Regions from separate parts of the Homo sapiens genome. Here region 1 is linked to region 2. The links come from fine-mapping of genetic effects on gene expression. A gene starts in region 2. The other region holds a variant in brackets. All regions are shown on one strand. Distances are between the middles of the regions.

Region 1 (4,384 bases), 35 kb before region 2:
GAGTTCGAGACCAGCCTGGCCAACATGGTGAAACCCCATCTCTACTAAAAATACAAAAATTAGCTGGGTGTGGTGGCGGGTGCCTGTAATCCCAGCTACTCTGGAGGCTGAGGCAGGAGAATTGTCTGAACCCGGAGGCGGAGGCTGCAGTGAGCCAAGATCACGCCACTGCACTCCAGCCTGGGTGACAGAGCGAGACTCCATCTCAAAAGGAAAAAAAAAAAAAAAGAAACCCTCCTTTGAATGAACCATAAATATTCGTTGCCCCAAGTTAAAAAAAACTTAATTATACGTTAATATATAATAAACATGTATTTGCATTTGTATATAATAAACATGTATTTGTATGTAATATGTAATCATAATGTAAGAATTACTTGAAGAAAATTTGGGTGCAAACCTCATATTAAGAGGCACATTTGCCTCACTCTTCCTCCCAGGGACAATGATGACAGCCTTTTCGTGCAGCTCCTACCAGTGTTCCTTTGAGGGGTGTGTGACTGCCAGTATGACTGCCCAGGAATTTGGAGGGTGAGGCCAGGAAACTCCAGGAGAGACGGTGGCCTGTGTGGCGTTATCACGGGGAGGTGCAGGTTGGCACCTAAACTTGATCATGCTACTCTCCTGCCTGAACACTCTGTGGCTCCCACTGCTCTTAGGATGAGACTCCAGCTCCTTGTTCCTCCAGCTGCCTCCTCACCCTGCCTTGCGCCATTCCCCTGCCTTGCTCTTTGGCCCTCAGGCCTACAGCTTCTTTGCTGGTCCCTGGGTGCCCCAAGATCTTCTCCTCTTGTTCCCAGTACCCAGGATACTTGTTACCTGCTACTTCCTCCTGGCTGGGCCCCCTGGCCCCACGAGGACAGCTTTTTCTGGATGACCTGGCTAAGTGAAGGCTGGATCCTTCATTCCTCTCTGCAGCCCCTTTTGTTTCAGAGCACACGTCACAGCCGCCATCATTGATGTGCCTATCTGGCTACTTGTGTATGATTTTTTCCTGCCCCTAGCATGTATGCCCTGTGTGTGCAAGCACTGTCTGGCGAACCACTGTACACCCAGTGTCTGGCACATAGCAGGTGACCCATACATATTTGCGTATTAAGGGGAAAGATGGCAATAACTAGAGGACGTGGGGACATTTGACTCATGCGTTTATCTTTTTTTTTTTTTTTTGAGACAAGATCTCACTCTGTTACCCAGGCTGGAGGGCAGTGGCACGATCTCAGCTCACTGTAGCCTCAACCTCCTGGGCTACGGCGATCCTCCTGCCTCAGCCTCCTGTGTAGCTGGGACCATACCCGCATGCCACCGCAGCTGGCTAATTTTAAAACTTTTTTTGTAGACACAAGGTCTCACTTTGTTGTCCAGGCTGGTCTGGAACTCCTAGGCTCAAGCCGCAGCCTCCCAAAGTACTGGGACTACAGGCGTGAGCCACCACATGCAGCCATGTATCTTTTAAAAATATTTATTATTTATTTTTTAATTTTTCATGCCCCTTGCTGCAGAGTTGTGTATATGTATCTGCGTTTATGGACATATTTCTTCTAAAACATATTGAAGTATAATATGTATCTAGAAAAGTGCACCAATTCTGAGTGTGTAGCTGGGTGAATTGTCAATGGTTACAGACCCATGTATCCAGCACCCAGATCTGGATACAATGTTATCAGCACCTCAAAAACTGCCTCCTGGCATGGTGGCTCATGCCTGTAGTCCCAGTACTTTGGGAGGTCGAGGAGTGGGGATTGCTTGAGCCCAGGAGTTCGAGACCAGCCTGGGCAACCAAGTGAGACCCTTGTCTCTACAAAAAAATACCAAAAAAAACTAGCCAGGGGTGGTGGCGCACACCTGTAGTCCCAGCTACTCGGGAGGCTGAGGTGGGAAGTTCACTTGAGCCTGGGAGATGGAGGCTGCAGTGAGCTAAGATCACGCCACTGAACTCCAGCCTGGGTGACAGAGTGAGACCCTGTCTCTGAAACCAAAACCAACACCAAAACCGAACAATCCAAAACAAACAAAAAACCTCCTCCACGCCCCTTCTAGTCTCTGCTCCTCCCTGCAATAATCATAGCCTCTGTGCCATAGATGAAATAAATGCTGGCAGGATTGGAAACCGGCTCAGCCATTTTGAAAACCACTTGGCAGTATCTACTAAGCTGAACCTGAGCCCCGCAGTGACCCGGCCATCCTGCTCCGAAGGATGTTTGCAGAGGGCGGAAATG[C/T]ACACAGCTGCTCACCGCAGGTGCAGAGACACCCACTGGGGTGTTCCTGACCGTTTCAGACTAGAAGTCCACCCGTACGCCCATCACAGTGGGTGGAGAGGTGCACTTGGGAGAGCCACACAATGGAATACTTCACAATAACAAGAACGCAGGTGCCACAGACAAAGGCAGCAGCGACGATGACTCTCTCAGTGTTGAGTGGAAAACATCAGACAGAAAAGATGACCCATTCCAAGATGACATTTATATGTGAAACCAGAACAGACAAAACAACCCAACAGGGCTATGTGTGGGAGGATATTTATTTTGCTTCTTTTCACTTTCCTTGTCTTCCCTTCTCTTTCTCCCTCTCTTCTCTCCCTCCTTCCTTTTCTTCCTTCCTTCCAAATTTGGGATCCCTATCCCTCTCTGTAAACACACACACACAGCTTCTTCTCTACATCAAGAAATAATAGGCTGGGCGCAGTGGCTCACGCCTGTAATCTCAGCACTTTGGGAGGCCGAGGCAGGGGGATCACAAGGTCAAGAGATCGAGACCATCCTGGCCAACATGGTGAAACCCCGTCTCTACTAAAAATACAAAAATTAGCTGGGCGTGGTGGTGTGCACCTGTGGACCCAGCTACTCGGGAGGCTGAGGCAGGACAATTGCTTGAACCTGGGAGGTGGAGGTTGCCAGGAGCCAAGATCACACCACTGCACTCCAGCCTGGTGACAGAGCAAGACTCTGTCTCAATAAAACAACAACAACAACAAAAAACCCTTTAAAATAATGGCCACCACGGATGCATGAAGGCTTGTAAGCATTTTATATGCTGATGCTTTGGAAAGTCCATGACCTTTTTCAGAAATCATCATGAGTTCAAGGTCGACATCAGGTACAGGGGCTCTGAGGCATTTGCTTAGCTGGAATGAGGGGGTGCTCGTGGCCGTGGTCACATGACAGGTGGTGTGTGCTGCACTGGTCAGGGGGTGTGCTCAGGGGAGAGGGGTATGGGACACCATCTACAGTGGCTGTTCAGCAAAAGGAAAGGTTGAGGACTGACCATTTAACCTGCTTGACTGTGTCTTTTTAAGGGCTGCAGACATTCCGTTATCTGGGTTGTTAACGGCTTTACGGAGCCAAATCTCTGCCACCAGTGTGAATAAACATCTGGGTGCCAGAGCCAAGCTGCACAGGTTCAGATCTGGGCTCTGCCAGGCACTGGTGATTCATCAGAGACAACTTATTTATCTCTCTCTCTCTCTTTTTTTTTTTTATGAGACGGAATCTTGTTCTTGTTGCCCAGGCTGAAGTGCAGTAGCGCAATCTCAGCTCACTGCAACCTCCACCTCCCAGGTTCGAGCGAGTCTCCTGTCTCAGCCTCCCGTGTAGCTGGGATTACAGGTGCATGCCACCACACCTGGCTAATTTTTGTATTTTTAGTAGAGACGGGGTTTCGCCATGTTGGCCAGGCTGGTCTCGAACTCCTGACCTCAGGTGATCCACCCGCCTCGGCCTCCCAAAGTTCTGGGATTACAGCCATGAGCCACTGTGCCCAGCAACTTATTTACTTCTTGGGGCCTCCGTTTCCTTATCTGTAAAATAAGTTTGAAAACTGCGCTGACCACATACAGTTGCTGTAAGAATTAAATGAGTTATTTATTTATTTTTATTTATTTTTTTGTTGAGATGGAGTCTCGCTCTGTCACCCAGGCTGGAGTGCAATGGTGCGATCTCGGCTCACTGCAAGCTCTGCCTCCTTGGTTCACGCCATTCTCCTGCCTCAGCCTCCCGAGTAGCTGGGACTACAGGAGCCTGCCACCACGCCCGGCTAATTTTTTTGTATTTTTAGTAGAGACGGGGTTTCACCATGTTAGCCAGGGTGGTCTTGATCTCCTGACCTCGTGATCTGCCCGCCTTGGCCTCCCAAAGTGCTGGGATTATAGGCGTGAGCCACCACAGTCGGCCATGAGTTATTATTTGTAAAGCTCTTGGTTAAGTGCCTGCATGGAACACAGTAAGCATTTAACAATGTTTTTCTACTTTTGCTCAGTTGTTTTAAAATGTCCCCCATCGTATTAGTCAGCTTTGGCTGTAATAATGCTGCATAACAAACATTCCCTGTCTCTCAGTGGCTTCCAATGACAAGCACTGTGCTCGATTTTGGGCTGTGATTGGGTTTA
Region 2 (4,384 bases):
CAACCTCCCATCCCATCATGGCCAGGAACTCGGCTTCCCAGGTTTCTCTGGGGTCCCCTGGCCAAGAGGGGGTCTGTTCAGTTGGTTGGGGGGGGGGGGCTTAAATTTTTATTTTTATTTCTCAGTATCTTTTCTCTCCAGCCATGCCAGCTTGAAACTGACCATGCAGAAGGATCACCTAGGTCAAGCTGGGAATCCAGACCCGGAATCAAACAGTTCTTACCCTTTGGCCAGTGTATTAGTCTGTTTTCACGCTGCTGATAAAGACATACCTGAGACTGGGCAATTTACAAAAGAAAGAGGTTTATTGGACTTACAGTTCTGTGTGGTGGGGAGGCTCACAATGACGGCAGAAGGTGAAAGGCACGGAGGAGCAAGTCAGGTCTTACATGGATGGCGGCAGGCAAAGAGAGAACTTGTGCAGGGAAACTTCCCTTTTTTTTTTTTTTAATTTTTTTTTGAGATGGACTTTTGCTCTGTTGCCCAGGCTGGAGTACAGTGGTGCAATGTCTGCTCACTGCAAGCTCCGCCTCCTGGGTTCACGCCATTCTCCTGGCTCAGCCTCCCAAGTAGCTGGGACTACAGGCGCCCACCACCACGCCTGGCTAATTTTTTGTATTTTTAGTAGAGACGGGGTTTCACCATGTTAGCCAGGATGGTCTCGATCTCCTGACCTCGTGATCCACCCGCCTTGGCCTCCCAAAGTGCTGGGAGTACAGACGTGAGCCATTGTGCCCGGCCGGAAACTTCCCTTTTTAAAACCATCAGATCTCTTGAGACTCACTCACTATCACAAGAAGAGTGCAGAAAAGACCTGCCCACATAATTCGATCACCTTCCACCAGGTTCCTCCCACGATGTGGGAATTGTGGGAGTTACGACTCAAGATGAGATTTGGGTGGAGACACAGCCAAACCATATCAGCCAGGTATCTTCACTCCTTGGTATTTACTCTGGGGAACCCAGCAGAGAAAAGGGTGGGGATTTATATACAAGTGTAGTTTATAAAACTTTAGCATGGTAAACAAGATAAGGATCTATCAAAAAGGGCATGGCTAAATACTTTGCGGTACAGGAGTTCCATGGACCACAGGCAATAACTGAAAATCATGCTTCTGAACTATCTTTAATAGGAAAATGCTCAAAATTCAATGTGCTGTTATGGTTACAAAATATTCATAAGGTAAAAAATATTTTGTAGAACATATCATAGAAAAATGACTGGATGGAAGTACAGAAATATTACTATCTCTACGTTACATATATATGTATTACTATTTGCTATCTTTAGGTGGAGGGAGTCTGAGTAGTATAAAGTTTTTTTTACTTCTCTTACATCAAGATTTGTTACATTAAATTTATATTCAAATCACAATAAGGGCCTGATGCAGTGGCTCACGCCTGTAATCCCAGAACTTTGGGAGGCCAAGGCAGGCGGATGCCCTGAGGTCAGGAGTTGGAGACTGGCCAGGCCAACAAGGTGAAACCCCGTCTCTACTAAAAATACAAAAATTAGCCGGGCATGGTAGCACGCGCCTGTAATCCCAGTTACTTGGGTGGCTGAGGCAGAAGAATCGCTTGAACCCGGGAGGCGGAGGTTGCAGTGACTCAGGATCGCGCCACTGCACTCCAGCCTAGGCGACAGAGCGAGACTCCGTCTCAAAAAAAAAAAAAAATAAGAAGAACAGTAAATCATCAAAAAAATAAACCCAATGACAACCACAGAAAGAGCCTTGCAAGCCCTCTTGGGAGGAATGACTGGGAGAACACCAGGTACCCGCCCTGATGAAGACGCCGCAGCAACTACAGTCTTCCCCGATTGGCAGCAGCCCGAGTTGGGGGGTGGGGGGGGGTGGGACTTTGTGCATCACTTCCGGGGGCGGGGCAGCGGTCGTCTCCGCACGCGCGGGAGCGGTCGGTATCCATGGCAACCAGCGGGGCCAGCCTAAGGCCCGCCCGCCACCGCCACCGCGCCGGCCCCGCCCGCACAAAGGCCGCGCGGTGACCCGCCCTCTGCCGCGACCCCGGCCCCGCCCCTGCCCCGGCCCCGGCCTGGCCCGGTCCCTGCACCTGCCGGAGGCCGCCCGCCGCCATCGCCAGCGCCGTCGCTTGGCTGCGCTGACCGGGAAGCAGTTCTCGGCGGTCCGCGCGGTGATTCATCGGCCTGGCCGCGTCCCCCGCGCGGGCCATCTTGGTCACGGCCGGCGGCGGACAGAGCCGCGGAGGAACCGCGAGACCCCAGGTACGCGTGCCCCCGGCCCCCTGCCCGGCCGGGCCCCGCCACTGTGGTGGCCCCCAGGCCCGCGGCCGCCAAGGAGCAGCCCCCTTTGTTCTCCCCCGGGCGGGCGCGGGGCGGGCGCCGCGGGGCTTTGTGCAGCCTCGCCACCCACGCGCGGGCCCTCCACGCCGCCCCTCACCCTCCTGCCCGCTAGTCGCAACTGAAACCTTGAAAACATCTTTTCTTAATCCTCCAGGGCCCAGAGCAGGTCCAGCCACCCGTCTGGCTCCGTAGTCCGCGAAGTCTGCAGTAAAGGAGCCGCGTGGGACCGGGGCCGAAGTCCCTAGGGCCTGGCACCGCGTGCCCCTCTCTCGGGCCCTCGGCTTGGGGGTCTCGCAGCGCCCTGCCGTCGTGCACCCCACACTGCCCCCATTTCTACAGGGGCCCACCTGGTCACCACACCCTCTTGGTCCACCCGCGGATCTCAGCGTGTGGCTGACCTCTGGCCAGCATGGTGCAGCCGCAGACGTCCAAAGCTGAAAGCCCAGCCTTGGCAGCGTCTCCGAATGCCCAGATGGATGACGTTATTGACACCCTGACCTCCCTGCGCCTCACCAACTCGGCGCTGAGGCGGGAGGCTTCCACCCTGCGGGCGGAGAAGGCCAATCTCACCAACATGCTGGAGAGCGTGATGGCAGAGCTGACCTTGTTACGCACCAGGGCGCGGATCCCGGGGGCTCTGCAGATCACCCCGCCCATCTCCTCAATTACTTCAAACGGGACTCGACCCATGACCACACCTCCAACCTCTCTGCCCGAGCCCTTTTCCGGGGACCCAGGCCGGTTGGCGGGGTTCCTGATGCAGATGGACAGATTCATGATCTTCCAGGCCTCCCGCTTCCCGGGTGAGGCCGAGCGTGTGGCCTTCCTTGTGTCTCGACTGACTGGGGAGGCGGAGAAGTGGGCTATCCCCCACATGCAACCTGACAGCCCCTTGCGCAACAACTATCAGGGGTTCCTGGCAGAGTTGCGGAGAACCTACAAGTCTCCGCTCCGGCATGCGCGGCGCGCCCAAATCAGGAAGACTTCTGCCTCTAATAGGGCTGTGCGAGAGAGGCAGATGCTCTGCCGCCAGCTGGCCTCTGCGGGCACGGGGCCTTGCCCAGTGCATCCAGCTTCCAACGGGACTAGTCCAGCGCCAGCCCTGCCTGCCCGAGCACGGAATCTTTAAGAATCCGCCAGCACTTGGTAGCGTCTGCAGCCACCCAGGTAGCATACGCTCTTTGCTGTGTAGAAGAAATGCCCATACGACAGCTTTGCCCCTGTTTGAAGACCTCCCTTCTTGCCTCTCCAGACGTGTTCCCCGAGGAGATCTTCCTTCCGTCCTTCCTGGCGCCCTGGTTGCCCACCTTGCCGTGCTTCCTCTTACGTGCTAGCTTTGTACCTATCGCTCACTGCATGCTCGCCTCCCTCTTGCTGGCATCCCGGCCTGTTTCAATGACTACCGCTCTGCTACTTAGGCACAGGGACTCCGCCGCACGCTGACGGACCACGAGGGCTGACCCCTTCCAGCCTGACTTGGTTCATGGAGGCTCCTACTCTGCCCTCTCCAAGCTCCCCTGGCGGCTCCCCACCTGGTTGCCCAGTTCCTATTGATGAGCTCTGGACAGAAAGATGCCCGTTTGGCCAGGCTGGTGGCTTGATGGGTGTACCTGGAGAGGGGGTCTGGCTTCCTGCCCAAGATGCCTCCCAGCCCTGCCAGGGCCCGGTGCAGCGGGCAGGGCCTCATCTGTGCTGTAGTGGTCGAGTGGTTGCTGCAAGGAGCGTAGTTCTGCCATGTCTGGGGGCCAGGTTCCACTCTGCACATGAATATGCAGTCTGGGAGGCCCCACTGCTCTCACTGGGAAGGACCAATGTTGCACCTCTGTTAATGCCTGACTTCAGCTGCTGGTGTTCTGATGGAGCCAGAGGCTTGGGGAATCTGGAACTTGCCTGCTAAATAAGGTCGTGGTGGACTCTCAGCCATTGGGCAGGTCTATCAGGCTGCAGGTTCCTACACACCCACGCCTGAGGGTCATAGCAGGCTAAGGGTGGATACCAGCGACTCCCTTTGCTGCCCAGGATCTCCATGGGCAGTGCCACAGCGGCTGATGCTCAGTCACTCCT

Evidence for each region. PIP is the estimated chance that this variant, and not a neighbour inherited with it, causes the effect.
Region 1: its variant is the best candidate, but not a certain one, in a credible set for the expression of RTL6 in nasal epithelium (TOPMed, PIP 0.85).

Annotation. Positions count from the first base shown.
Region 1 is chr22:44,530,689-44,535,072 of GRCh38, reverse strand. LOC105373059 (a long non-coding RNA gene) reads left to right here. Exons shown (of 3, transcript XR_938300.2): 3 at 1-352. Among named protein-coding and RNA genes, the nearest start is that of RTL6, 35 kb to the right of the region's middle. The variant C/T (reference allele first, on the strand shown) is at 2,220.
Region 2 is chr22:44,495,902-44,500,285 of GRCh38, reverse strand. RTL6 (retrotransposon Gag like 6) reads left to right here and starts at 2,053. Exons shown (of 2, transcript NM_032287.3): 1 at 2,053-2,242; 2 at 2,475-4,384. The coding sequence starts at 2,730. The coding sequence ends at 3,449. RefSeq lists silencers at 1,843-1,902, 1,993-2,122 and enhancers at 3,382-4,159, 4,160-4,384.